Regions from separate parts of the Homo sapiens genome. Here all the other regions are reported to be linked to region 3. Evidence: microRNA targets listed by miRTarBase, many of them from high-throughput screens and not tested one by one. Region 3 holds a microRNA gene; each other region holds the end of a gene's coding sequence.
What was found. Region 3 holds the annotated microRNA hsa-miR-3622b-5p (AGGCAUGGGAGGUCAGGUGA, at 3,598-3,617, shown strand). A microRNA usually pairs through its seed, bases 2 to 8, with sites in the 3' UTR of a target mRNA and lowers its output. Matches are read on the target gene's strand: a 7mer-m8 pairs with bases 2 to 8, a 7mer-A1 pairs with bases 2 to 7 and ends in A, and an 8mer does both.

Region 1: the mRNA of EIF4EBP3 is a reported target of hsa-miR-3622b-5p. Seed matches in the 3' UTR shown: 7mer-A1 at 695-701.
Region 2: miRTarBase lists CWC25 as a target of hsa-miR-3622b-5p. Seed matches in the 3' UTR shown: 7mer-A1 at 1,657-1,663.
Region 4: the mRNA of FLYWCH2 is a reported target of hsa-miR-3622b-5p. The part of its 3' UTR that is shown has no 7-base or 8-base seed match.

What each region holds. Positions count from the first base shown.
Region 1 is chr5:140,548,613-140,555,716 of GRCh38, forward strand. It overlaps EIF4EBP3 (eukaryotic translation initiation factor 4E binding protein 3), which reads left to right. Exons shown (of 3, transcript NM_003732.3): 2 at 294-464; 3 at 622-964. The coding sequence ends at 650. ANKHD1-EIF4EBP3 (ANKHD1-EIF4EBP3 readthrough) reads left to right here. Exons shown (of 36, transcript NM_020690.6): 35 at 294-464; 36 at 622-964. The coding sequence ends at 625. SRA1 (steroid receptor RNA activator 1) reads right to left here. Exons shown (of 5, transcript NM_001035235.4): 3 at 3,370-3,572; 4 at 2,449-2,557; 5 at 1,456-2,299. The coding sequence ends at 2,088. Among named protein-coding and RNA genes, the nearest start is that of EIF4EBP3, 4.5 kb to the left of the region's middle. RefSeq lists an enhancer at 1-120.
Region 2 is chr17:38,796,334-38,803,450 of GRCh38, reverse strand. CWC25 (CWC25 spliceosome associated protein) reads left to right here. Exons shown (of 10, transcript NM_017748.5): 9 at 590-751; 10 at 1,245-3,010. The coding sequence ends at 1,359. It overlaps PIP4K2B (phosphatidylinositol-5-phosphate 4-kinase type 2 beta), which reads left to right and starts at 3,895. Exons shown (of 10, transcript NM_003559.5): 1 at 3,895-4,185. The coding sequence starts at 4,027. RefSeq lists an enhancer at 3,900-4,718.
Region 3 is chr8:27,698,226-27,705,342 of GRCh38, reverse strand. It overlaps MIR3622B (microRNA 3622b), which reads left to right and starts at 3,576; the gene lies at 3,576-3,670. It overlaps MIR3622A (microRNA 3622a), which reads right to left and starts at 3,666; the gene lies at 3,584-3,666. LOC124901920 (a long non-coding RNA gene) reads right to left here and starts at 4,373. Exons shown (of 2, transcript XR_007060869.1): 1 at 1-4,373. It also overlaps a transcript of SCARA3 not described here. RefSeq lists an enhancer at 66-566 and a silencer at 2,064-2,209.
Region 4 is chr16:2,897,715-2,904,831 of GRCh38, forward strand. FLYWCH2 (FLYWCH family member 2) reads left to right here. Exons shown (of 4, transcript NM_138439.3): 4 at 1,335-1,651. The coding sequence ends at 1,435. Among named protein-coding and RNA genes, the nearest start is that of FLYWCH1, 11 kb to the right of the region's middle. RefSeq lists a silencer at 6,625-6,854.

The DNA.
Region 1 (7,104 bases), not on the chromosome of region 3:
TGTTCCTCTTAGAGCCAAGATCTGAAGCTCTCCCAAACATAAAGCCCCTGCCTATACCAGCTGGGATGCCCCCCTTGCTTTATACCCACATCTTGGTTAGGTCTGGAAGATTTTAAGCACTATGAAGGCTTGTCTGCTGAGAACCTAGCTGGGCTTCAGAGCCGATGTCCTTTGATACACAGGGAAATTTGACACCACCCTCACCTCCAGGCCCCAAAAGGCCTGAGTCTGGGACCCCAGTCACCTCGGTACCCAAGCTCCTGACTCTTACCTCAGTCCCAACCCCTTGACAGGCACCAGGATCATCTACGACCGAAAGTTCCTGCTGGAGTGCAAGAACTCACCCATTGCCCGGACACCCCCCTGCTGCCTCCCTCAGATTCCCGGGGTCACAACTCCTCCAACAGCCCCTCTCTCCAAGCTGGAGGAGCTGAAGGAGCAGGAGACAGAGGAAGAGATACCCGGTAAGGAAAGCAGGAATTAAGAATTGTCCCAGCCTTTGAGTTCAAATGCCACTGTGACACAGTGCGGGGGTTCAGTTCCAAGAGGGGTTTCTGCACTGATGCTGAGCCTGCAGATCCTCAGACCAGCAACCTGTCTTCCTGCCTTTTCTCTCTCCAGATGACGCACAATTTGAAATGGACATCTAATCCAGTGCAGATGACCTGGCATGTGGAGTTACAGAGGGATCCCTCATGCCACTGCTGCCACCACCTCTTCCTGGGGCATCCAAAGGCCAGCTGGCCTCATCTAATCTGGAAGGGAGTGACTTGTTAGTTCCAGGCCTCCTTTAGTTCTGAGGCAGCTAGACCAGGGATAGGAGTGGGCAACTTGCCAAGCCCTTAACTCTACTTCCTCTTCAGTCTGTGGTACTCCTCCTAACCCTAAACCCTCTATGCTCAGGGGCTGGAACTGGGGAATGGAGTAAGTCACCTTCTGACTGCTTAGTAAACATTCAAAGAAATGCCTTGGCTCCAGTGTTCTCCTCAATGCTGATTTTCTCATCTCAGCCACACAGCTGAAGGCCCTGGCAGGCCTGGTTAAGCTCAGAGGCCTCAGATCATTCCCAGCTCCCACCAGGCCCACTTCCAGCAGCAATTAGAACCTGAGGCACGCTACAGTGGCAGGTTACATGAGCCTCCAAACCATAAACAGCAATAGCTTGGCCACTGCCAAGGGCTGTTCCTGTCTTCCCAGGAAGCAGCCTTCCTGGAACCAGGGCCCCCCAGCAGCCCCTCCCCTATCCATTCCAAAGCAGGACTCTTGGAAAAGAGGTGCTGTCCCAGCCTATAGCCATCCTGTCTCTCCCTGTGCCTTTTCTGCTTCCCACCTCTAAGCACCAGTTCCTCTATTCCAACACCAAAAACCTTGTACCCTTCTCACAGCATGATAGTCCACCAAGTACCTCTCTCAAAGGGTTACAAGAGACCTTAGAGTTCACACTGAAACCCAAAATGAGGCAGCAGTTTGTTTGGCAAGTCAGAGTTACAATCCCCAATCTCAGTAATCTGGTCTTTTTCTCCTTCGATTTACACAGAAAACCCCACTCAATGTGGTTCTAATCTCTGTAACAGTAGTATCTCAAGGGTGATACAGTGCAAATAGGACTGTCTTTCCTTTTGTTGAGGGAAAAGTCTCCCCGTTCTATTTGAGTCTGTTCTCATGCTGAAATGAAACCATCCAAACACAGCTGCTCCGCCCAGCACAGGATGTGCTTTCAGTCTACTTTGGGAAAAAGTGGTAGGCAGTAGTCTGACTTTACCCAGCAGATCCCTTCCTGATGAATGGAGAAGGGAGAACAGAGGTTTGCAGATACACAGGGAGCAGGGCAGTCGAGGACACCAGAGGGGACTAGCTTGGCACCGGAAGGGTTCATCTCTCCTACCCAAGGCCCACCGCAGAGATGTTTTTATTGAAATGCATGTTATGAGTAACACATGAACTCCCTCTGGCCCAGGTGGGACTTCTTCCCTCATAGGTGGGTCAGGCCCAGTGGGACAGTCTTGGTGGTGGTAAGAAGGGAGCCAAGTGACAGAAGGTCTCCAAGGCATAGGAGATGGTGTCCGGTGAGTCTGGGGAACCGAGGATTATGAAGCCTGCTGGAAGCCTGGTATGGTATGGTTCTTCTCAGCTGTGGCTGCAGATTTCTCTTCATTGGCTGCCTCCTCTGAAAACAGACTCCTCTTTTCTGCAATTAATCTTTTAACTCCTACCATCCACTGACTGACCTCAGTCACATGGTCAACCATGAGGGAGCGGTGGATGTCATCTGCTGCGTCCCACCGGTGGCTTGAAAGCTCTGAAGAGAGACGGGGGTTGAGCAAGCAGCCTGTGGTACAAGAGCTTCCATGCCTCCCCTCCCAGTCAATCAAAATCTCAGCACCTGCTCCAGCATAGCCAACCACAGCAGGAAAGGGATTTAGGCTATACCAAAGAACCCACCCATACCTTGCACCAGTAGAGCCATTCTCTTCTTTACAGGTATTGACAACTTTCCTCCAGCCCACTGTTCCTGCAGCAGTGCCAGGCGTCGGCTGATGTCATCACATACCTGCTTCTAAGAGACAGAAGCCCCCCTCCAATTCAGTGCTGCCAGCCCAATGAGGGGAGGAGAGGGGAAGACAGCACCACATAGGAAGCACCTGCTTTCTCTGGCCCACACTTTAGAATTCTGGTTCTTTACCCAAAGATTAGAGGCCCCACTGAGAAACTGATGAAACCTTCCTTTCCCTGCTGTCTTCTTCTGACACTGCCTGATGTTTCATTGAAAAGTAGAGGTCATTAAACAGGAATTCTCTCATCTTCCCACCACCAGTCTTCCTAACCCACCTCCTACTATGACTAGAATTCTAAAATTTCAGGGGCTTCTCAGACTCTCAGAAGCTCATCCTGTAGCGTTACTTCACAAAAAGAAAACTAAGCGCCAAAGAGGTGAAATGACCATGCTACTTTCCCTTTCTTTTAAGACATTCTTCAGATCTCTTTTTCTAAGAACTAAGAAAACACTATAGCTAGAAGAGGTTTCTTTCTCCCTAACTGGGCACAATATAAATTTCCTGAGAATAAAATCAGCAGCTTCTGCTCTGAATGGCATGGAGATACAGAAAATCAGGTTGTTCACTAATAGGAGCTGAATTCAACTCTTGTTCCCACAGCATCTTCTACTGATTGGTCTTCAAAAGTCTTATTAATGCTCCTGAAATCCTGTGTTCATTTCTTTGGGAAGGCCTTAGCAGATTCTGAAGGAGTCCGTAACTCTCAAAGGATTAAGAACCTGTCCACTGGGTCAGAGGGTCTATCTCTGGGAACCATTCCTGCATTTGGCTGTGGATGGGAGCCCTCTCTAACCTCTGATGTGCCAGAGCTTACCCTTGTGTGGCCACGGCAGTCTTCCAATGCCTGTTCCAAAGGTCTCAGCACATCCTCCATCACAGCCTCAGACTCGACTGGGAAACTTGTGGGCTCCACGCCAGAGGCAGGACCACTCCCCACAGGTGGGGACCTGGGAGCCTTACTTGAAGGAGGTGGAGGCCCCATTGGGGGAGGCCCAGGAGAAGTCTCTGATGCGGGGACTGAAAAGGTACAGCAGGATCAAGCAACATGGCTTAAATGGGTAAGAAGCTTAACTCTAAATTCACCCCTTCTAAGAAGGGCTACTCTCTGAGACAACTTATTCATTCAAAAATATGCATTTATGAAGTCCCCACTCTACGCCAGACAATATGCTAGGCACTAAAGATTAGAAAAGTAAACCAGGTGGCCGGGTGTGATGGCTCACACCTGTAATCCCAGCACTTTGGGAGGCTGAGGCAGACAGATCACCTGAGGTCAGGAGTTCAAGACCAGCCTGGCCAACATGGCAAAACCCTGTCTCTACTAAAAATACAAAAATTAGCTGGGCATGGTGGCACATGCCTGTAATCCCAGCTACTCAGGAGGCTGAGGCAGGAGAATCGCTTGAACCCGGGAGGCAGAGGTTGTGGTGAGCTGAGATGGTGCCATTGCACTCCAGCCTGGGCAACAAGAGTGAAACTCTGTCTCAAAAAAAAAAAAAAAGAAAAGAAAAGTAAACCAGGCCTGGGCACAGTGGCTTATGCCTGTAATACTAACACTTTGAGAGGCCAAGGTAGGAAGATCACCTGAGCTCAGGAGTTCAAAACCAGCCTACGCAATATAGTGAGACCTCATCTCTATAAAAAAATTTTAAAAGTTAGTCAAGTGTGGTGGCACACACCTATAGTCCTGGCTACTCAGGAGGAAGTAAACCAGACAGATTAAGTTCCTGACCTCAGAGAGCTTAATTCTAGAGGCAGGGAAAAAAACACAAAATTACTAAATTATGTTACATGCTACCAAGAAATAAAATGGTTTATGCAATAAAGAGAAATGGGAGAACCTATCTAGACTAAGTGTTCAAGGAAGGCCTTCTGAGGTACATTTAAGTTTATCTGAGCTCACTTGCTATGTGACTTTCAGCAAGTTACTTTCAACTAGAGCTTAGGTTCCTCTTCTGTAAAATGGGGATGAATATAATGCCACTTATTTCACAAGGTTGCAATGAAGATTAGGAATACAGGTACAGGCTGAGTGTGGTGACACATGCCTCTAATCCCAGCACACTGGGAGGCAGAGGCAGGAGGATCGCTTGAGCCCAGGAGTTTGAGAGCAGCCTGAGCAGCATACTAAGACCCTCTTAAAAAAAAAAAAAAAAGACAGCTGCTAGACTAGTATGTAGCAAAAAGTACAAAATGAGCTGTTTTTATTAAATTGAGAACTACCGGATGAGATAGATGCAGCTATGAAGAGTTGAAGGAACATGTACTAGGTCGAGGTTAGAGCAGTGCCCAAGAAGCAGGAAAACTTTTGATTTGTTCAAGAGACAGTAATGAGGCCTGTATGGCTAAAAATTATTACCACTGAAGAAAGTAGTATGAGCTATCATTAGAGAGGTAAGCAGAGGGTCCAGACCCTGTGGGGCTTTGGAAGAGTTTGATCTTGAGTCAATGGTACTGGGAAGCCACTGCAGGTTTGTAAAAGCAAGGGGTGATGTGACCAGACTTATTTTTAAACATGTATGCTCTGTGAAAAACTGATGAAAACAGGTCAACAGTGGTGGCAGGAACACCAGTTGAGAGGTTGAGTAGTTCAGGAAAGAGATAATGCTGGCATGGACTAGGGTAAAAGAGTAGACGAGGGGAATGGAGTAGTCTGAGATTTACTTAGGAGGAAGTAGCAACAGGAGTGGATTGAGAGTGAGGAAGAGAGAAGTCAAGGTGACTCGTAGTTTCTGACTTAGTAATGGGAACCACTAACAGAAAGAAGACTGGAAGACAAAAGTCAAAAGTTTACTTTTAGGTACCAACATCCACAAGGATGATTAATTCATCTAATAATTTGGTGTTTCAGTTGACCTCTTCACCTCCAGTGATCATTTTTTCCCACCCTACATCAGCCTGTCATCCCCCTGCCTTGTTCACACTATCACCTCCAAAATCTGATCACCCCCTTACCCCTTCCAGCTCAGCTACTTTGATTTCAATGTACATTAACATCACCCCCTTATAAATATTTTTACCTCCTTTATCTCCTCCCATTGTCCCACTTTCCTGGTTAAACCCAACTTGCTTGCACTTGGGAGGGAAAACAGAGCCATGCTGATAGTTTAAATTCATGGCCACAGATTTTAAAAGGTACCAAATACTGCCTGGACATTTTGGCTCATTTTTTCCACTCTTCAGAACTTCTCTTCCTTTCCTTGCTATCTTCTTCTGACACTGCCTAATGTTTCATTGAAAAGTAGAGGTCATTAAACAGAACTCTCTCATCTTCCCACCACCATTCCTCCTAACCCACCTGCATCTGTGGCCACTTTTCTTCCTCTTGTAATAGATGAAAAGGTTCCTGCTCCTATCAAAAGCCATCTTACCAGCTGTACTCTGCATCCTAGCCTCTCTTGTCTTCTCTAGACTTCCCTACTGTAACTATCTTCTCTTGCATCATCAGCTCCCCCTCTCTACTGAATCATCCCGTTAGTGTACAAACATGCTCTAGTATATTACTATCAAAACACTCCCTTACTTCATGTTCCATTTTCAGATACTGTCCCATTTCTTATCTCTGCAGCAGCATTTGAGTGAGCTCTTTATAGTCACTCTCTCTACTTTTCACATTCTCTCCTCAGCCCATTCCAGCTGTTTCTGTTCTCACTACTGCAGAGACTTGCTCTTGTTATGATCACGAGTGACTGCTATGTTTGTCAAATCTACTGGTTCCTTGTCGCTCTTTTTTTTTTTATTGAGATGGAGTCCCAGGCTGGAGTGCAATGGTGCGATCTCGGCTCACTGCAGGCTCCACCTCCCAGGTTCAAATGATTCTCCTGCCTCAGCCTCCCGAGTAGCTGGGATTTCAGGTGCCCGCCACTACACCTGGCTATTTTTTGTATTTTTAGTAGAGACAGGGTTTTACCACGTTGGCCAGGCTGGTCTTGAACTCCTGACCTCGTGATCCACCCGCCTTGGCCTCCAAAGTGCTGGAATTACAGGCGTGAGCCACTGCGCCTGGCCCCTTGTCTCTATCTTGATGTCTCAGCAGCATTCATTACTATTGATTCATGTCTTTACGCTCTCCTATTTTCTTTTTTTATTTTGGTTTTGTCACAGAATATCACTCTGTCGCCCAGGCTGGAGTGCAGTGGTGCGATGTCGGCTCACTGCAACCTCCGCCTCCCAGGTTCAAGCGATTCTCCTGTCTCACCCTCCCAAGTAGCTGGTATTACAGGCCCAGCTAATTTTTGTATTTTTAGTAGAGACAGCGTTTCGCCATGTTGGCCAGGCTGGTCTTGAACTTCTGATCTCAGGTGATCTGCCCACCTTGGCCTCCCCATGTGCTGGGATTACAGCCGTGACTCACTGCGCCTGGCCTCTCCTTTTTTCTTCTTTGGCCATTTCCCAATCTCCTTTGCTGATTCCTTCTCAACCTTGAAATGCTAGAGTGCCCTACGGCTCTGTCCCTGGCCATATTCAAGCCCATGACATCAAATACCATCCTTGTAATGGTGACTTATTTCTCTAATTCTGGCCTAGAACATTCCCCAAAAGTAACAGC
Region 2 (7,117 bases), not on the chromosome of region 3:
CCCATGTTGGCCAGGCTGGTCTCGAACTCCTGACGTCAGGTGATCTGCCCGCCTTGGCCTCCCAAAGTGCTGGGATTACAGGCGTGAGCCACCATGCCTGGCCCTATTTATTATTTTCTGAGGCTAAGTTATTCCTTCAGCTTCTGGCTTCTAGCTTAGTCCTAAAGTAGTGTACTCATGGGCTGTGTCATGAATTTCTAGTCTCCAATGGGTAGTTAGATGGTAGATGTTAACAGTTACATGGATAACCTAGTCTTCTGTTCTTCTGTCAATTGTTGAGCAAACCATTGGGATATAATTGCTACAAGTTTAGGTTCCTGATGAGTTCCCAATTTATTTCATATTTCATATTTCAGAATAATCACTCTAGAGATTACTGAGTGAGATTATGGAATACTTTACTAAAAGCCTTTGAAATTTGGATGAAACCTCCTGACCAGGACGTTAGAAGGGAACTCAGGCTGGCCTTGCACTTGGAGAGAGCAGTGAACTGGAGAGCTTGGGGTCCCACCTGGCTTCTGTGCTTCTTGTGCTGCTTCTGGTTTTTTTGCTGGAAGAGACCTGATCGTATGGTTTCTGTGCTCAACAGAAAACTCTCTGCAGAGGAATTAGAGCGAAAACGGCAAGAGATGATGGAAAACGCCAAATGGAGGGAGGAGGAGAGACTGAACATCCTCAAGAGGCATGCTAAGGATGAGGAACGGGAGCAGAGGCTAGAGAAGCTGGACTCCCGGGATGGGAAGTTCATCCAGTGAGTGCATCTTCTTCCTGCCAGGGTCTTTCATGGGGAAGGTCTTAAGAGGCAGGCTGGCAGCTGGTTCCCGTTCCAGTGTTTCTGTGTTTGCACATGGAGCCCAGCCTTCAGACCACCTTGGCTACTACTCTTCCTTTCTGACCACACAGTGGGATGTTTTTCATTTGAGGGGAGGAGAAGTGAATTTGGTATTTTCTAAATCATTGAAATTCCTTGACCTTCCTTTTTAATAAGAATTCATGGCCCAGGAAGCCTTTTTCCAATGAGGCTTTGACTTATTTTCCAAAACAGATACATTTTCCCTTATGGACACTGGTTTAAAAACATTTGGTTCCAGGTGGAGTCACTCGAAAGTTATCTATGGGAGCTTAAAAGAGGTTGTGTTTTTACAGCTGCTCTATGGCTAACAACCCATTTCTTCTGAAGCTGCCAGAATAGTTGACTGATTGAAAATGTTTTTGACTTGCATTTGCCTGTCTTCTCTTCCTAGCCGCATGAAGCTGGAGAGTGCATCTACTTCCTCCCTGGAGGATCGGGTGAAGCGGAATATCTACTCTTTACAGAGAACTTCGGTAGCTCTGGAGAAGAACTTTATGAAAAGATGAAAACTGTCCCCTCTCTTATTGGTTTTCCTGCATTTTCCAGGGAAGCTGCTGACCCCTTAATTCTCTTTATAAGAGTTCAAATGACTTCTTTCACAGATGTCAAACCACCAGTGTTCAAAGTGACCCTGCTTCATTGAGTCCTGAAACAGCTCACTTCCTTTGAGAGCTAGTGTGACTTGCTTTGTGGGACACTCAGTAACTTTGGGTTTTGACTCTTTAACGGGTGGGCACTGGACCATCTCGGTGGGAGTGCTTGTGCCACTCTGGAAGGCTGTTCCCTGGGGTTGTGATGTTTATCATGCCACTTCCTTCTTACCTGTGCCAACAGACCTATTTCACTGCCTCAGCGTACACCAGACCCTTCAGAAACCTCTCTGGTGTCACCCAGATAGATTGTGCTTACTGAGACAAATGAACGTTTACTTGATTTAGAAGATAATGTGACAGAATGATGTCAGGTTAGGTCAAAGCCAAGGGAGTGACAGAATCTGGAAAATCAAACAATACAAAAAGCCCTAAATGAACTGTTAACTATTTGATCTTTGGATGTAAAATTGTAATGCGTATATGTACAAATGTACAATTTTTACATGCTTTTAAAAAAGGTTAGCTTTGTGAAAATACCTTGTTTGGTCAATGACTTTACTGGGTAATAGAACCACATTGAACCTTGATGGCAAGTAATACAATAAGGCAGGCCAGCTCGTTTTTCTCTCTGAATCTGGCTGGTTTAGGAGGAGCCTGGGTTTATCGACGAGATCTGGAGTATCTATTCTTTTCCACTGCTTGCAGTCTCCAATGTAGGCAGTGTAAAGGTATAGTAAAATGATTTTAGGAGTCAGAACCAAATTGCCAATATGCTCCATGGCTCCTAAAGGAAAATAAAATGGAAGTTTTTATTTTGCGGCTTCACTTCTTACCGTGTAGTAACCTTACTACAATTACAGATTTTCAGGAGTTGTTTGCTAGTCTCTTTCAGTCAGGTACTAAAAAAAAAACAAAAAACAGGCTGGGCGCGGTGGCTCACACCTGTAATCTCAGCACTTTGGGAGGCTGAGGTGGGCGGATCACGAGGTCAGGAGATCGAGACCATCCTGGCGAACACGGTGAAACCCCGTCTCTACTAAAAAAATACAAAAAATTAGCCGGGCGTGGTGGCGGGCGCCTGTAGTCCCAGCTACTCGGGAGGCTGAGGCAGGAGAATGGCGTGAACCCAGGAGGCGGAGCTTGCAGTGAGCCGAGATTGTGCCACCGCACTCCAGCCTGGGTGACAGAGCGAGATTCCGTCTCAAAAAACAACAGCAACAAAACAAAACCCTCGAGGGGCCACTCTCCTGTCTTTACTCCTTTTCCCTTCTCTATTCTTTCACCAGAAGCCCTCATTTGACCAGTGAACTCCTAGGCCCTCTTGACCCGCACATTAGCTGGGCGATTTCCTTGTTCTGCTAATTCCTAATTCTGCTTAAAATGTATTTGGATTTCTGTTTTTGAACACTTATGATGCCAGGCACTGTAATGCTTGAAACCCGATCTTTCCCTAGAGAATGTAACATACGTTTTTATTCATTTAATCACTTCATTATGCCGGGGTTAATTATGTTTATTTTATAATTGGTAATAAAGGCCACATTTATTTTTGTAACTGTTTAAAGAGCGACCACCTGTGGAGTACCGTGTTTACGAATTTCCATGCAGAAAGAACAACGTTGACCTGTAATTTGTGTCGAATATATGGAGATCCCTCATCTGAGAATTATGTAACAAAGCGTGGGGCAGTTTACTCAAAGATTTTACGAAATGAGCCAGAGTAAGACGATTAGTGGGATAGGTGTCTGAAGGTGCTGGCGGCCTCTGAGCTCTGACCCTTTGCGGGGAGAACAGGCAGCAGGTGGGTGGGCGCGGGGCCCATTCATAAAAACCAGTGTTCCTGGCCTGCTTCTCTCATTGGCCCTGGGGGCAAGGGGCGTGCCCCGCGGGTGGAGCGCGCCCGGGGCCCAGCAGAGTGGGCAGATCCACGCTTAGGTGGAGCGAGGGGGCGTTCCTTGGCTTTCTAGGCTGGACTTTCTCTTCCCCTTGCTGCGTCCCTCCTCTCCCCCGGGGTGGGCATGGTACGTCCCGCCCTCCTCGCATTCCCGTCCCTCCTTCCCTTCCGGAGCGGTGGCATCGCCGCCATCTTGGCATTCGGGTTGCGGGAAAGAGCCAAACCCTGGCGTTGGGGGGCCCGGGCGGGGAGCCCCTCCCGCGGTCCACAGCGACGCCTGCCCAGCCCTCCTCCCCTTCCGGCTCCGGCACGGGGCCCCGAGGCGTTCGGAGGCCAGGCGGGTTTCTGTCAGGCCCGGGGAGGAGGGGCGGGCGGGGCGGCCGCTGCCTCCCCGGGACGGGCCGTACCACGCGGACGGGGAGGACGGGGCCAGGGGACTGCAGGGCGGCTGCACCGCCCGGGGGCGGGGTGCGGAGCGGGCCGGCGGGCTCCCCGGGGCGGGGCGGGAGGGCGGGGCGTGGGGCGGACGGAACCACCGGGGCGGGGTGGGAGGTAACGGGACGGGCGCGACCATGGCGCGGTGAGGGAGCGGGGGTGGGGATCGGTCCGGGGGAGGCCTGAGGCCGCTGGCTTGTGCGCTGTCTCCGCCGCCCCCCTCTTTCGCCGCCGCCGCCGCCGCCCCGGGCATGTCGTCCAACTGCACCAGCACCACGGCGGTGGCGGTGGCGCCGCTCAGCGCCAGCAAGACCAAGACCAAGAAGAAGCATTTCGTGTGCCAGAAAGTGAAGCTATTCCGGGCCAGCGAGCCGATCCTCAGCGTCCTGATGTGGGGGGTGAACCACACGGTAACCAGCTCCTGCGCGCCCCTCTGAGCGCGGCCCCGCGCGCTCCCACGCCCCCTGCAGCCCTGGGCCCTTGCCCCGCAGGCCCTGCCGGTGACGCCTGCCACCCCTCGCCAAGCCACTTGCACGCCCACCCCACCCTTGCACGCCTTTCGGCCCCGTGTGCACTCCCCGCACGCCACGCGAGGCCTGGTGTCTCTGTGGTCTGCCGTCGCCACCTCCCCTTCCCTCCAGCCCTTCTGGCTTCCTGCGTGTGGCGTGCTCGCTTGGGGCAGCCCATGGAGCGCAAAGGCAAGGCCTCAGTGCAGTGGAGTCGCTTTCATCCCTGCTTCTCCTCCTCCCCCCTCATCCTGTTTGTGAGGGTGTATATTCCCCCTTGTTCCTTACAGCCGGCTGCCAGCTCTGTCAAGTAGCAGTGGTCTGCCCAAATAGTCCTCTCTTTCTGATCGTTTGGTTGTTGTGGCTGCTCAAATTCTTCCATCCTCCAGGCCTCCTTACCTTTGAATGTAGAACTCCACCCTGGGTTTCCTTTTTTTTCCCTCTTGAACAAGATGTATCAACTGGAGAAGCACAGGCTTCCTTGAACCAGACACTTCACCTGGGTCTCTCTGGGTTAGGGAGAAGAAAGAATGGCTATTAACCATTTGAGAGAAGAGGATGCCTGGTTATAAGGAGGGACTATTCATAGTAGAAATAATATGTCTTCCCATAGTTTTTGAAGGTGATCATTTTAAAGATGTTGACTTATCTGTTGTGTGGCTGCAATGTTGTGATGATGCATAGTGATTATGGTCCTAGATAGGAGAGATAGGTCCCCTGGGTCCTTAGGGTGCTTTGAGATTGTTCAACAGCCCCTGCCAGGAAGTTGGATCCTGACAGTTTAAGCTGGAAGACTGTTTATGTGGTGTTTGTTCAGGGTCTTTATTCTCCCTCTTCCAACCACTTGCTCTTTGCCTTCTGACCATTTCTTTATGAATCCCCACACTAGGAATGAGCAGAGGAAGTAAAAGGACCCGAAACACCAACTTCACTAACTAGAATTTTGGAATAAGGAGGATCAAGCTTGGGTTTCCTGTGGATTTCAGTTCTTTAGGTTCACTTGTGAGTGCTTGAAATTGCTCACAAGACCAAGCGATGACAAAGAGGGCCAGCAAGACTTTGCATTGCTTTGGCAGAGGAGCTGAAGGTGCCTTTGGGTGGAGATCGATGAACCGTAATCTGAGCTAGGGTTTTAGATCTTGACCTGTCATTTAGGAAAGTGCATGTGTAAATTGAGGTCTCTGTGGTTTCTTGGTCTTGGGCAGGTTACTGTTTTCACTGTCATCACTGGTGTTAGTGAGGGTCCTGCCAGGATAGCGAGTACCAGTGGTATAATGCCCAGACCTCTAGGAGCTGCTTCGGGCCAACAATCCAGCCCAGTTTGTTACTCGGTCTTCCTGCTGTCCCAGGGGTCATCTGACAACATTTCTAGGGAAACTGGGTGATCAGAATATGAACCCCATGTCCCTTTCTGGAAGTCAATCCTTGATTTTGTTCTGCATCCTGCTTCTCACTCTACCAGGCCTCTCTCTGCTGGTTCTGTTTCTCACAGAAAGCAACCTGTCTGTAGAGAACTGGTAGAGGCCTGAGAGTCAGGAGTATTACAGCTAGCTGCAATGAACCTTGGGTCCCTTATTTTACACATGAAGAAAAGGAGGCCTCAGGTGGAGGATTAGCTTGCCTGTGGTTACAGCAAGAGATGTCGCTTATTGTCTAGCACCATGGGACTGTATCGGCCAAGGGTGGTGCCTGAGTGGCTGGTCTTGTTTTCTTTGCCTCCTGTTTCTTTTCCTCTCCCTCAGCCAAGTCTCAGGATAGATGCGAAGTATAGTCCGGTTAGAGAAGGTGAATATATGCTCTGGGTTATACGCCTATGCATGTCAGGTCCTGGGAGTGTGTGTGATGCATGGTGTTCCGATAGGCAGGCATGAGTCTGTCCATATGTGGTTATGAAGTTTCTCAATAGCTGATGGTTAGGTATCACGAGTCAGGAGTCCTGTGAGTCCTACTCTGTTGGACAAAGTGGTCATCTTTTTTCTTTGCTAACTTTAAGTTGAAAGTTTGTTTGAGGGGCTAGTTGGAAAGGCATTGACTTTAAGCAAGATCCGTGCCTCTGGACATAATGAACAGGCATCTCATGGGAACTTCCCACCACTGCCCTGGACAGGCTAAGCTTCAGAGGCCAGTTAGTCGTAAGTTTTATTGCTTCATCCTGGTCTGCAGTAAGGTCTGATACTTCAGTGTCCCCATTTGGGAACTGAGACATCTGCCTAGAAGAAGAGTGTAATCTTGCACTCGTCTAAGGGATCAGGACCACATTGCCCTCGGTGGACTGCTGCACTTTTTTGGAGATTTCCTCCCTTCAAAAAAAGCCTACTTTGTAACATTTTGTCATCTGAGATTTCAGATACCACCTTTTCTTTAGTTTCTCACCTGTTTAGGCATTTAGGCATGCTGGTCTGTGGCTAATGGTGTTTCAGATAGGAAGGATGGATATGTCTTTATCTACAGCAGAAGTTAGTTACCCTTTCATGAGGTGATTAGTTTACTTCTAGGTGGAAAAAGAGAGGACTTTGAACTTGGTGTTGTCACAGGAGCTGCTCTCATGGACAAGAGCCCATGGATTTTGTGGAGGAAGAATGTGTAGGAAACAAGGAGAAAAATCAGAAGACTTTGCACCTGTCAGGGAAGAACTAGTGAAGAGCAAAAACCAGTGTTTTAGTGGATGAAATACAGTTCCGAGGGTTTGGAATTAGGGAAGAGATGGCCTCAGAGAGGAGCATGGAGACCATGGGAGGTAGACCTGACTTGATACTTGTTGGCCATTTTAAGAACCAGGTATGTGTGAAGCCTTACCACAGGGATCAGAGGAGCAGGAGCAGTTGATGGTGACTCT
Region 3 (7,117 bases):
CCCACTTGGGTCTGCCAAGGTCCCGCAGCTGCTTTCCATCAGCCCAGTGCCTGTCACAAGAGACCCCAGCCCTGGAGGGAGCCAGGTGGGGTCACCCCCTTTCTCTACCAGGCTCCTTCGACCTGCCCCTCTTTCTCCTCTCCCTTCCTCAATACCCCATTGGAACATGCATTTTCTCTCCCTCTGGCACCCAGAGAGACACAGGCTATGAGAGTTTTGATGGGGGATGCAGGGTGGAAAGTGTGAGGGAGGCAGCATTTTGGTACCCTCGCTGATTGCTCCCTTAATGAGCTGTGGTGTGAGTTCCGTTTTGGCCAAATTCACAGGATGCTGCCCTCCTGGGGAGAAGTTGGGGCTGAAAGTTGAGATTATTTTGCAGCTTCTGAAGCAAACATCCACTCAGAAAACATGATGTCACCAAGGATGGTTGGATTACCCTGCAGGGCGCTGGCAGCAAAGACTCCCTCCCATCTCCAGCTCAGCCTCCCTCCAGAGAGGACACGTAGAACACTCATTTCCAAACAGTAGGCATGACGCTTCTGAAATGAGGTGCCCAGTGTCTTCTGTGTGTGCGTGTGTGTGTGTGTGTGATGGAATCCTAGAAACTAGTCATATGAAACAACCCCCATTGCAGACGCTCTGTGAATGCTGTTAGTAACCAACTAACTGTCTACACAGCTGGAACCACAGCTAGTTCAGGAAACTTCCCTCTAGTCCAGCCCAACCCAGGGTCTTTCACACGGACCTGAAGGAAGGTGAGGAGTGTGCTAACTTGATGACTGATACTTTGATATTTATTTTGTCTTTGCGAGGCAGCACTGAGATCCAGGAATCCGTGAAGATATTCACTATTTTAAAAAATTAAATTTATTCTTTAAAATTATTATTATACATTTTGAGGTGGGGTATTGCTCTGTCACCCAGGCTGGAGTGCAGTGGCATAATCATAGCTCATTGCAGCCTTGACTTCCTGGGCTCAAGCAATCCTTCCTCCTAAGTCTCCTGAGTAGCTGAGACTACAGATGCGTGCCACTAAGCCTGGTTAATTTTTTCAATTTTTGTAGAGACAAGGTCTTGCTGTGTTGCTCAGGCTGGTCTCAAACTCCTGGGCTCAAGTGATCCTCCTGCCTCTGCCTCTCAAAGCACTGGAATTATAGGCATGAGCTGCTGTACCTGGCCAATATTCACTCTTCTTGTTAATATTCTTTCTCCTTTCCCTCTTTCACTCCTTTCCTTTAGCTTTGACTTCTTCCTTACTTTGGATGTTCCTCTTTCCCCTTTCTCCCTTCCTTCTGCTTCCTCTTCCTTGCCCTCTCTCCCCTTAAGCTAATTACTTTTAACCTTTATTTATCCATTATTAAATGCCAGCCCCTCATCCTGCTTAACACCTTATGTGTAGTGTATCATTTCATCAAAACTCTTATTTTCCATTATGTTTTTTTCCCCACAGGTATTTTTTTCTCACTGTAAAAAAAAAAAAAAAAAAAAAAAAAAAAAAGTAGAAAGCACAGGTAAGCAAAAAACAAAAAACCACACACAAAACCACAAACTTTAAGTTACCCACAATCACATTGTTGCCATTTTGCTGTAGGTTCTCCCAGATTTCTGTCCAAGAATGAACCCTCCAGAACCTCCTAGGAGATTCTTTCCAGGTCCGGAGTCCTGGGTTTGTAGTTCAAGCCCCATCTTGAAGGTGCTGTGCAACCTTGAACAGATCCCCCCCAACCCTAGTCTCAGTTTATCCAGACTGCACCTGCATCCTGGGAACAGGCATGGCTGTGCGTTTGATAACCACACCCATTGCCGGTTGGGAGACCAGGTTTTTCTCTCAAGGGAGCCGCAGTCTGTTGCCTTTTGCCACCATTTTGCAAATCAGATCTCAATTCTGGGCCCACCCAGCCACCCCATCCTGTCCCCTCCAGCCTCACCCTGACTTCTCAGCTTTCACTTTTTTCTGCTGATGGGTTGGAAATTGCTACTCTCCTGTTTTCTCTCCACCTGCACTAACAAACCCCAAGTGCTGCCCCCAGCACGAATCCCTGGTTCCCGGGTCCTCTGCCAGGTGCAGGTGCTGCGGCTTCATGTTCAAAGGATTCTGGGCACTGCGCTTTCTCCCTTGATGTGCCCAGCCAGGCTGCGGGGATGGGAGGCTCCTCTCCTGTGCGGCTCAGGCTGTTTTTCTCCCCAGAGCCTTGTGGCCAAGTTTCCGTGGCCCTGTGCTCTGGACCCTGGGCCAGGGCTGTGGTGTGGGCAGCCTTGAGGCCCTGGGTTCCATGCCAGTTCTCGACAGGAAGGCCTTTCATGTGGGTGCCAGCTGGCCTCTGGGCCCAGCTTCGGGCCTGGCAGGGCCTGAGGAGGGAGAGCTGCGAGTGTGAAAAACACTTTCTGTTTGGGAGCTGGTTGGTGGGAAGGAAAGACAAGAGGGAGGGGGACAGGCAGGTCAAAGAGCTTACCCAGGTTTAGAGGAGCGAGGCCAAGGTGCCCCTGTAGAAATGAGGCGATTCGGCCTTTCCTCCCCAAAAAGAGGTCTTGGCAGAGATACAAGGAAGCAAAGTCTGTTGGGTGGGGATGGAAAACACTTTCCCAAGCCTGCCTTCACTCCCTCCCTCCCCCGGGCTCACTGAGCCTAATCAGGTCAAGCACGCAGCTCCCTGCCAGACACTGTGGCATTGTTTAAAGCCGCTGCCTCCCCAGTACCCTCTCCCCACAGAACTGAGTTCTGACAAAGGAGGCCCTGAGGGACAGGGCTGAGAGGACAGAGACCCAAGGTCCAGGGACGCGTCACTCCCCTATGGCTCGCTCTCCTTCCCACTGGTTATTGTTTTTCTACCCTGGACCCCAGGGAGAAAAGGAGCCAGGCCCTGGCAAACCTGAAGGCTGTTTGTGTTGACATAAAGGCACTTTCTGAGCAAACAGCACTGAAAGGTCAGCAGTAACCCCAGGCAGTGCCAGGACTGGGCAGCGGGTTTGGGAGGTGTGGAGAGAAAGGAAACTGTGGGCCACTTGGGGTCGGATGACTTCACCAGAAGAAGAAGAAAAGCCAGCCAGGCTGCAGGGAGGGGGCTTCCTGGAGATGGAGCCCTGGAAGACCTTGGCTACCCCATAAAACTTAAATAGGACTTGAAGTCAGTTGTTTATCTGCTTTCCAGAACACCAATGACATGGGAGAGAGGCTGGCGCCCTAGGCAGGACCCAAGCGAGCCTGGTGTCTGGGGCAGGATCTGCCACTACGCTTGGCTTTCTCACTGTAGGACTCAGTTTGCATGGGAAACCAAAGGAGAATTTCAAGTGTCCTACTCACACATATTCTAGCCTTTCAGGAAACATTTACTGAGCATACATCACCCACCTGATAGGGGGCTAAGCCTGGGAATGCTTTCAGAGATGAGTAGCACAAGGTCTCAGATAAGGTGACCCATTTTCCCCGTTTGCCTGGGCCTCCCAGTTTTAGCACTGAACATCCCTTAGCTCAGGAAGCCCAGGAAACCCTTTGGTTTGGGGCATACTTGGTTGGTTGGTCACCCTAGCATCAGTCATCAAGCAGCTCACGATCTGCAAACAATGGTAGACATACGAGTGATATAATAGAGGGTGCACAGGCATGGGAGGTCAGGTGAGCTCAGCTCCCTGCCTCACCTGAGCTCCCGTGCCTGTGCACCCTCTATTGGCTATGATCACACCACTGCACTCCAGCCTGGGTGACAAAACAAGACCTTGCCACTAAAAAAAAGAGAAAGAAAGAAAAGAAAGAAAGAGAGAAAGAGAAAGAAAGAGAGGAAGGAAGGAAGGAAAGAAAAAGCTACTTTTTGAATGAAAGAATGAAAAAGCATCTCTCAGCTAGGAAATGTCTTGCCATGATGACACCTGTGTTCAATGGGGAGCTACGAGAACATTTTAAAAAAATCTACTGTACTGAGGCATAATTTACATATAATACAATGCATACACTTCAATGTAGACTTTGATGAATTTTAACAAATATATACACTCAGTAACTGTTAAATCAATCAAAATATTTATAGCACCCCAGAAACTTCCCTATTTCTCTTTTGTAGTTAATCCCATCCTAACCATCCCATCCCAGGTAACCACTTACCTGATTTCTGTAACTATAGATTCATTTTAGTTTTTCTAGAACATCATCTCAATGGAATAATACAGTCTGTACTCTTTTGAGTGACTTCCTCTACTCAATGTGCTTTTGAGATTTATCCAAGTTGGTTTGCATATCACTAGTTTTTTTGTTTTTTTTTTACTGGTGAGTATGGATTTATCATAATTTTTCCATGCATTTGCCTATTGATGAACATTTGACTTGTTTCCAGTTTTTTGCTATTCTGGACAATGCTGTTGTGAATAGTATGTACAAATTTTGGTATAGAAAAACATTTTCATTTCTCTTGGGTAAAAACCCAGAAGTGAAATTGCTGGATCATAGGTTAAGTATGTGTTCAGATTTATAGGAAATCACCTAACTTTTCCAAAAGGGTTGTACCACTTCACAGTTTCACCATTAATGCATGAGAGTTCTCGTTGCTCCACATCCTCACAACATTTTGTATTGTTGGTTTTTGAAATTTTAGCCATTCTAGTGGTATCTCAGAGTGGTTTCATTTGCATTTCCCTGATGATTAATGAAGCTGGAACACTTTTTCATGTGCTTACATGGTCATTCATATACTTTTCTTGCAAAATGTCTGTTCATGTCTTTCATCTTTTTTTTTTTTTTTATTTTTGAGGTAGAGTTTTGCTCTGTTGCTTAGGCTGGAGTGCAGTGGTGTGATCTCAGCTCACTGCAACTTCCACCTCCTGGGTTCAAGTGATTTTCCTGCCTCACCCTTCCAAGTAGCTGGGACTACAGGAGCCCACCACCATGCCCAGCTAATTTTTGTATTTTTAGTAGAGACAGGGTTTCACCATGTTGGCCAGGCTGTTCTTGAACTCCTGGCCTCCAGTGATTTGCCCATCTCGGCCTCCCAAAGTGCTGGGACTTTCATCCATTTTTAATTTGAGCTGCATGTCTTTTTCTTATTGAGATGTATGAGTTCTTTATGTATCCTGAAAGCAAGTCCTTTGTCTCATATATGTATTGCAAATATTTTCTCTTATTCTGGGATTTTTTTTCTTTTCATGTTCTTAAAGGGATATTTTAAAGAATAGAGGGTTTTAATTTTGATATAATCCAATTTATCAAAATTTTTCTCTTATGGTTTGTGACTTTCATGACCATATTTCTTAAAGTCACAAAAATTATCTTATGTATTTTTTAAGAAGTTTTATAGATTTAGTTTTTACATTTAGGTTTGTGGTCCATATCAGATGAATTTTTGTGTATTATATGAGGTAATATCAAAGTTTGTTTTTTGCATATAAAAATCATTTGTTGAAAAGACTTTGAAATCATTGGTGTCTTTGGGGAAAATCAATTGATATATATGTGTAAATCTATTTCTGGATCTCAATGTGGTTCAATTGATCTATATGTCTGTCCTTACACCATTATCTCATTGTCTTAATTACTGCTGCTTTAGAGTAAGTCTTTTTTTTTCTTTCTGAAATTTTAAATTTTTATTTTTTGTAGAGTTGGGGTCTCACTATATTGTCTAGGCTGGTCTGGAACTTTTGGGATCAAGTGATCCTCCTGCCTGAGCCTCCCAAAGTGCTGGGATTGCAGGTGTGAGCCTCCATGACAGACCTAGAGAACGTCTGGATATTATGTAGTATAGGCCCTCCAACTGAACTCTTCTTCAAAATTCTGTGGATTTTCTAGATCCTTTGCACTTTTATATACATTTTTAGAATCAGTTTTGTCAGTGTCTTTAAAAACAAGGCTGCCGAGGCCTGGCACAGTGGCTTACGCCTGTAATCCCAACAACTCATGAAGCTGAGGTGGGAGGGTCACTTGAGCCCAGGAGGTCAAGGCTGCAGTGGACTATGATCATGCCACTGCACTCCAGCCTGGGTGACAGAGCAAGACTCTGTCATTTACAAAAAAGAAAGAAAGAAAAATAAGGCTGCTGGGATTTTGATTGGAAGTGTGTAGGATATGTAAAAGAATATAGGAAAATGAACGTCTTTTTTTTTTTTTAATTTTTATTTGAGACGGAGTCTTGCTCTGTCACCCAGGCTGGAGTGCAGTGGCGCAATCTCGGCTCACTGCAAGCTCCGCCTCCTGGGTTCCCACTATTCTTCTGCCTCAGCCTCCCAAGTAGCTGGGACTACAGGCGCCCGCCACCATGCCCGGCTAATTTTTTGTATTTTTAGTAGAGACAGGGTTTCACCATGTTAGCCAGGATGGTCTCGATCTCCTGACCTCATGATCCACCTGCCTCGGCCTCCCAGAGTGCTGAGATTACAGGCGTGAGCCACTGTGCCCAGCCATGAACGTCTTATTAATGTGAGTTTTCTTATACATGAACATGAGATATATATATAGATAGACAGATAGATAGATACCACTATATATATATATCTCCATTTATAAAGATATTTAAAAATTTCAGCAATATTCTGTACTTTTTACTATAAAGATCATGCCCATCCTTTACTAAATTCATTCCTATATATTTTATATTTTTATGCTGTTGCTAAATGATTACTTAATTTTAATTTTCTTATTTTTTGCTCCTAGTATATAGAGATGCAATGGGTTTTTGTATATTGGCCTTCTATATTATGATATTGGTAAATCACTTTTTAATAATTGCCATTTTCTTGTAAATTCCCTAGGATTTTCTATACAAACAACTATGCTGTCTGTGAATAAATACAGCTTTATATTTTTCCTTCCAATATGTATTTCTTTGTTTGTCTTATTTCGTTGGGGAGGACCTCTAGTCAAATAGAATAAAAGTGTTGGGAGATGAGATCCTTGCCTTATTTCTGGTTTATAAGGGAAAACATTTAGACTTCCACCATTAAATTTGCAATTAGCTATCCCTGGTGCTCTTGTTGTCATATCAACTTGACACATTATAAATCCAATCTCCAGTCTTATCTTAAAATAGTCTTAAAATAATCTTCCCTTACAATAGTCAGTTGTCTCTCAAGAGAATTCAGAGAGAAAAAAATCCATGCATTTTAATATTTACGTTCTAATTTACCACTTCTGCTGCTC
Region 4 (7,117 bases), not on the chromosome of region 3:
CTGGCCCCACAGCAGGTCCTGCCTCTGGGCTCTACCAGGGCAGGCAGCGGTGGGGGCAGGGCCCTAGGCAGCAGAGGAAATGGGCTGGGTACACCTTTTGAACTGGAAGTTCCAGGGAGATGGGGCAGGGGGCTGCCCAGTGGGTGGGAAGAAGGTGAGTTGGGGTTTCTTCCCAACTGGGAGTGGGCTCTGCCGTGCCCTGAGAAGAAGAGGCGTAGCAGGTGGCCTTGGCTTGTGACCTCTGAACAGGTGGTCCCCTGGGGTCAGCCAGAACAGGTGGTCCCCTGGGGTCAGCCAGGGCACTCAGCCTGGCAGCCCATTGTGAGAAAAGGTTCCTTCAGTTTGCTGGCCGTGCAGGGACCCTGCCTCACTGATGGAAATTGAGGGGTGAGTGGCCTGAGGTCACAGAGGGTCACAGCCCCACAGCCTCCCTGGGGCTGAGACCCCAGAATGCCTGAGATGGTGGTGTCCGCAGCCACAGGCTTGGAGCTTTCAAGGAACCTAATGGACCCCTCGGCCTCCATCCCTCTGCTGGAGTCTCAGGCCTGGTGTGAGCAGTGCTCTGGGACTCAGAGGGACCCCGTCCTCCCAGAGCCGGTGGGAGTGCCTGGCTCTTACTGCGAAGCCCCCACCATCCAGTCCTGCTCTGAGAGCCTCTGCCTGTCCCCCTGGCTTCTCCTGCCAACCTTGGGCAGAGGATGCAGTCCCCATGGCCTGTGGGAGGCAGGGCTCAGAGGAGCGAAGTCGCCACTCTGAGGCCACCAGGAGGTCCCTGCAGAGGGCAGAGGGGGTTGGAGTCTGGCTCAGGATCTGTTACACCTGAGCTCTGTGGAATGAGACCATCTCAAGGTCCTCCCAGCCCCTTTGAGACTCCTGCTCACTGCTGGGATCCATCTAGGCCTGGGGCCGTGGTGCCTTTGTGAGAATTGGAGCACAGCCATCTTCGCCAGATGAAAGGCAGAGCAGGGCTCCATCAGGCGCCAGGGGTCCCGCAGGCAATCACCCTCAGGCATCGACCACCCCCATCTGCCAACTCCTCCATCCTTCCATCCCCACCCCAGGTCCAGCAGAGGCGATGGCTGCGGCTTCCCAGTGCTCAGCACAAACTTGGCCTCAAGTTTCCTGGAAATGACTTTAGCAGCTTTTGTGGCCCTGGCCTGGTGGCCTTGGGAGCAGCGTCCCTGAGTGGCAGTCACTTCTCAGTCAGGCAGAGGCTTCTGGCCCTGGAGCATCCACTGGTTGGGGTGAGAGTGAGGCCTGGTAGACCCCCAACAGCCAAGCTGAGCCCTCCCATCTCCATTGACACCAGCCTGATCCACCCTCTTCTCTCGCAGGCACAGACAGAACAGAAGACAGTGGATTAGCAGCGGGGCCTCCTGAGGCTGCTGGGGAGAACTTTGCCCCCTGCTCTGTGGCGCCCGGCAAGTCCCTGTAACCTTGACAACAGGCGCATCCTCCCAGGCCACCAACCCAGCCATAGGCTCTTCTCTGTCCGCAGGGCTTCTGGGGCCAAATGGGTGAATCTTTGCTTTTAACATTGTGTGATTTCTTTTCTTTTTTTTTTTTTTTTTAGATCAAGTATAAGTTACTTTTGTAAGCAGAAAAATACTTTCAAACAAGAATAAAAGAAGCTGTTCGCTAGACCCCATAATGGGCAGGTTTTAAACATCCCAGGCTTCTGGGTCCTTTGAGGCTCAGCTCTGATGCCACCACCCCTGGGTCTCCGCACCCCAGCCCTTACTGGGCCCTTCCAAAGTGCCCCTTAGTCACTGCCCTCCCTGACCCAAGTCTCGCTTCCTCCATGAAGCCTCCCAGACTGACAGCTCCCAGGCACTAAGGGAGCTCAGGCTTGCTGAGAATGGTAGCTCCAGGATTCTGCTGAGGGAGAGGTAGGCCTGCAGCTCATGGGTGGGTTCAGGGAGGAACCTGACAAAAGCACATGCGGCCTGCCTGTCATGTTTTTTCCAGGGGATTTGTGGGCTGAGGAAACCTGAGTTCCTGCCCTGGCCCCCTGGGTGCCATCCCTGCTGGAGGGGAGATGAAGGAAGCACAGCTACCCTACTTGAGCTCCCAAGTCAGCGAGCCTCCAGGAGGCTTCCCATGAGTCCTCATTCTTTGACAACTGCCTCTGGGCTCAAGGCAATGTTAGGGTTTTGTTTGTTTGTTTTGAGGCGGAGTTTCACTCGTCGCACAGGCTGGAGTGCAGTGGCACGATCTGGACTCACTGCAACCACCACCTCCCGGGTTCAAGCGATTCTCTTGACTCAGCCTCCTGAGTAGCTGGGATTACAGGCGCCCGCCACCACGCCCGGCTAATTTTTATATATTTAGTAGAGATGGGGTTTCACCACGTTGGCCAGGCTGGTCTTGAACTCCTGACCTCAGGTAATCTGCCTGCCTCAGCCTCCCAAAGTGCTGGGATTACAGGCATGAGCCACCATGCCTGGCCCTGATTTTATATTCAGATGGTTTCTGTGTTCTCCACCATGCTTTCTCCTTTCCCAAGTGTTTTTTTGTTCGTTTGTTTTGTTTTGTTTTTTGAGATGGGGTCTCACTCTGTAGCCCAGGCTGGAGTGCAGTGGTGTGATCTCAGCTCACTGCAACTGCCGCCTCCCAGGTTCAAGCGATTCTCCTGCTTCAGCCTCCCAAGTAGCTGGGATTACAGGTGCGCACCACCATGCCTGGCTGTTTTTGTATTTTTAGTAGAGATGGGGTTTCACCATGTTGGCCAGGTTGGTCTGGAACTCTGGACCTCAGGTGATCTGCCTGCCTCGGCCTCCCAAAGTGCTGGGATTACAGGTGTGAGCCACTGCTCCAGGCCTGTTCCCAAGTACCCTTGGCTGTCTGTTCTTGTCAGATGTTAAGGACACCTGAGGATGTCAGGGCAGGACGTTTCGGGTGCAACCTCAAGAAGTGGGAGTGAGGAAGAGGAGGCCGGGGTGGGTCAGAGGGCAGGGTCACTGTGGGGCGCGTCTGCCCTGTACTCAGTGTGGCACCATCGGGCCCCTCCTGCTGTTGCCTGGGAAGCCTTACCCAGCAGTGAGGGGTGGCTGTGGAGCAGCAGGGCCGGGAGCGGGGGAGCATTTTTGCTGCCACCTTTTAGTGGAGTTGGGGGAATGACAAAGGTGCCCTGGGCCTGAGTCTTTCAGTGGCGCTGGCAGTCGGCCGGGAGGGAGACGCATACTGGGGAGCTGGAGCCTGCACACTGGGCCTGGCCACATCACTGTTTTCCTCACCCTCTGGTTTTATTTTGAAACATTTGGAGCATAAAAGTTGCAGGAGCACGCAGTGCATACTGTATCGCCCTGGCCTGGGTTCCCCGGCTCTCCTTCCCTCTCTCTCTCCTCTTTTTTCTCTCTCCCTCCCTCTGTCTCTCCTCCACACACTTCTCTTTTGCCAAACCATCCAAATGCAGGCAGCAGACTCCAAAACCATTCTGCCTGCACCTCTGAGCACACCCTTCCCAGTCATAGCCATGTTAATGCGAGTGTGCCTGAGAGGATCGCCGCTGGTTCCGTGATATCACCCAGCATCATCCACACCACATCCCAGTGAGCAGTGAGGACAAAAATGGCCAGGTTAGGACCCCATGTTGCCTTTTTTTGCCACCCATATCCCGGAGCCCCTCTCCTGTTCTTTATTTTTTATTTTTACTTTTATTTTTATTTTTTTTTCGAGACAGGGACAGGGTCCTGCTCTGTTGCCCAGGCTGTAGTGCAGCAGACCTTCCAGGCTCAAGCAATCATCCTCCCACCTCAGCCTCCTGAGCAGCTGAGACTACAGGCAGGCTACTTTTTTGAGTTTTTGAGGAGATGGGGTCTCGCTGTGTTGCCCAGGCTGGTCTCAAACTCTTGGGCTCAAGCGATCTTCCCATCTCGGCCTCCCAAAGTGCTGGGATTACAGGTACAAGCCACCGTGCCCAGCCTAGTGTTAGCAATTTGATATTAAAATTGAAATAATAGGCCAGGTGCAGTGGCTCATGCCTGTAATCCCTGCCTTCGGGAGGCTGAGGCGGGCGGACCAGCTGAGGTCAGGATTTCAAGACCAGCCTGGCCAACATGGCGAAACCCCGTCTTTACTAAAAAAAAATACAAAAATTAGCCAGGTGTGGTGGTGGGTGCCTCTAGTCCCAGCTACTCGGGAGACTGAGGCAGGAGAATGGCTTCAACCCGGGAGGTGGAGGTTGCAGTGAGCTGAGATCACACCACTGCACTCCAGCCTGAGTGACAGAGTGAGTCTCCATCTCAAAAAACAAATAACTGTTTAAAAAATTGCAATTATGGCCGGTCATGGTCACGCCTGTAATCCCAGTACTTTGGGAGGCTGAGGCAGGTGAATCACCTGAGGTCAGGAGTTGGAGACAAGCCTAGCCAACATGGTGAAACCCTGTCTCTACTAAAAAATACAAAAAATTGGCCAGGCGTGGCAGTGGGCATCTGTAATCTCATCTACTCGGGAGGCTGAGGCAGGAGAATCACTTGAACCCAGGAGGTGGAGGTTGCAGTAAGCCGAGATCATGCCATTGCACTCCAGCCTGGGCGACAGAGCGAGACCCCATCTCAAAAAAAAAAAAATGCAATTATGGATATCCATTCACATTTTAAATCCAAACACAAATTTTAAAACATTAATTTTTTAAATTAAATTGAAAATTTTAAAAATTCTGCCACTTTCTTGCTCCTTCACTTCTTGGGGACTTTGATGTACAGGCCCAAGCAGGGTTCCCGGGATCTAGTGGTAAACAGGTCACAACCCATCCCCCGCAGAGCCACAGAGGAAACATAGAAATCCCTGACTGATGAGTCTATGAACCTGAGGCTAAGGGCCACCGAGGAGTCTGGGTGCCGCGGGGTGTATGACAGAGGCCAACCCAGTGGGGGCCAGCCTGGGCAACATAGTGAGACACTGACTCTACAAAAAAATACAAAAATTAGCTAGGTGTGGTGGTGCGTGCCTGTAGTCCCAGCTACTGGGGAAGCTGAGCCAGGAGGATCACCTGAGCTCACCTATAGTCCAGCTACTCAAGAGGCTGAGGCTGGAGGATTGCCTGAGCCCAGGAAGTCAAGGCTGCAGTCAGCCATGATGGCACCACTGAGCTCCAGAGTGGGTGACATGATGAGACCCTGTCTAAAAAAATGTATATAAAGTGGATTTTTGTAGGAGGGGGTTGCAATAGCAGCTTACTTAGTTCACTCCATGCATCGACCTGGTATTGCAGTAGCTCCAAGAACGGTGCCCCCCGCCCATGTGTGTGGTTGCTGAGTGTAGATGTCATTAATTTTAATTTTGAAAAGGGGACAAAAATTACAAATTACCTCCAGTAATTCCACTACTTAGAGGTAAATTTTAAAAAATATATGTGTGTGTGTGTGTATATAATATATATACTCTGGCTATATATATATTTATATTTATACATATTTATATATATTTATATATATTTATTTATATATTTATATATATTTATTTATATATTTATATATATTTATATTTATATATTTGTATATATAAACTCTGGCTATATATATATATTTAGCCAGAGTTTCACTCTTGTTGCCCAGGCTGGAGTCCAGTGGTGCGATCTTGGCTCACTACAAACTCTGCCTCCTGGGTCCAAGTGATTCTCCTGCCTCAGTCTCTCCAGTAGCTGGGATTACATGCATGCACCACCACACCTGGCTAATTTTTTATTTTTAATAGAGACAGGGTTTCTCCATGTTGGTCAGGCTGGTCTCGAATTCCCGACCTCAGGTGATCCACCCGCCTCAGACTCCCAAAGTGCTACGATTACAGGCGTGAGCCACCGCGCCCGGCCAAAAAATATATATTTTTAAAATTTTTTTATTTTCAGAAAATCAAGGTGATGCCACACATTTGTTGTTGAGACAGAGTCTCGCTCTGCCGTCCAGGCTGGAGTGCAGTGGGGAGATCTCGGCTCACTGCAACCTCCGCCTCCCGGGTTCAAGTGATTCTCCTGACTCAGCCTCCCGAGTAGGTGGGAATACAGGCGCGCGCTAGCGTGCCTGGCTAATTTTTGTATTTTTAAGTAGAGACGGGGTTTCGCCATGTTGGCCAGGCTGGTCTTGAACTCCTCACCTCAAGTCATCCTCCCGCCTCGGCCTCCTAAAGTACTGGGATTACAGGCATGAGCCACCGTGCCTGGCCCACATATGTTTTTTCATAATGTGTTACAAATGTCTTCCTTCTTATGAATGCTGCACAACATTCTTTTTGCTGCTTGATGCCCACTGCAGGGATGCGTGAAATCCACTAGCTCCAGTGGCCAGACACATCCCGGTTGCCTCCAGGTTGTAAGCAATCCTGAAATAGCCTCGTATGTTCCTAGGACAGAGTTCTAGAAGTGAGATTGCCGAACTGGAAGAATGCAAGTTACATTCAACCCACGTCCTGCGAATGCCGATCTCTCCGGCATTTGTCAACACCTGGTTTTATCATCAAGAAGAAAACAGTAATAACGCGTCCTCCGCTTGGCCCTAGCGTGCACAGCCTCTGCGCTTTTCACCTCGAGGTCTCATTTTCCTTGGACAGCACCGAGCGCTGGGCAGGGCCTCATCCGGGTTCAGGGCCGGAATCTGGAGACGTTCTGGCCGATGCTCCTGACGGCCGGGAGAGGGCGCGCGCGGACTCAGCGGCGGCCCAGCAGCCTCCCCAGGACCCAGGCAGTGCTGGCAGCCAGGAGTGCGGTTCCGCCCCGCAGCCTCAGTCCCGCTCCGCCCACCCGCCTGACCCCCACCCGGGCTCCTTACGGCCCAGACACCGGCTCTAAGGTGGCTTCTGCAGGGATGGGAGGTGGGCGACTGGGAGGGGTGGAGGGGGCCTGTGTGTTGACCCTGCGGGTGGCAGCCGTTGGGAAATTGCAATGGCGTCCACACTGTCGCTGCCCAGGGCGCGAGCCGCAGCCTCTCCTCCCGTCTCGCTTCCTCCGACAGGCGCCCGACTCGGACACACGGCGCCCCTGTGGTTACCACATCCACTGCTTTTTGGTCTCCTCACCCAACCCCTTAACATAAACTCGACACCAGGGAAGGCATCTTGGACGATTTTGGTCCCTGAGGGTCCTAGTGCGAAGGGCAGGGAGAGAGGGAGCGGTGTGGTG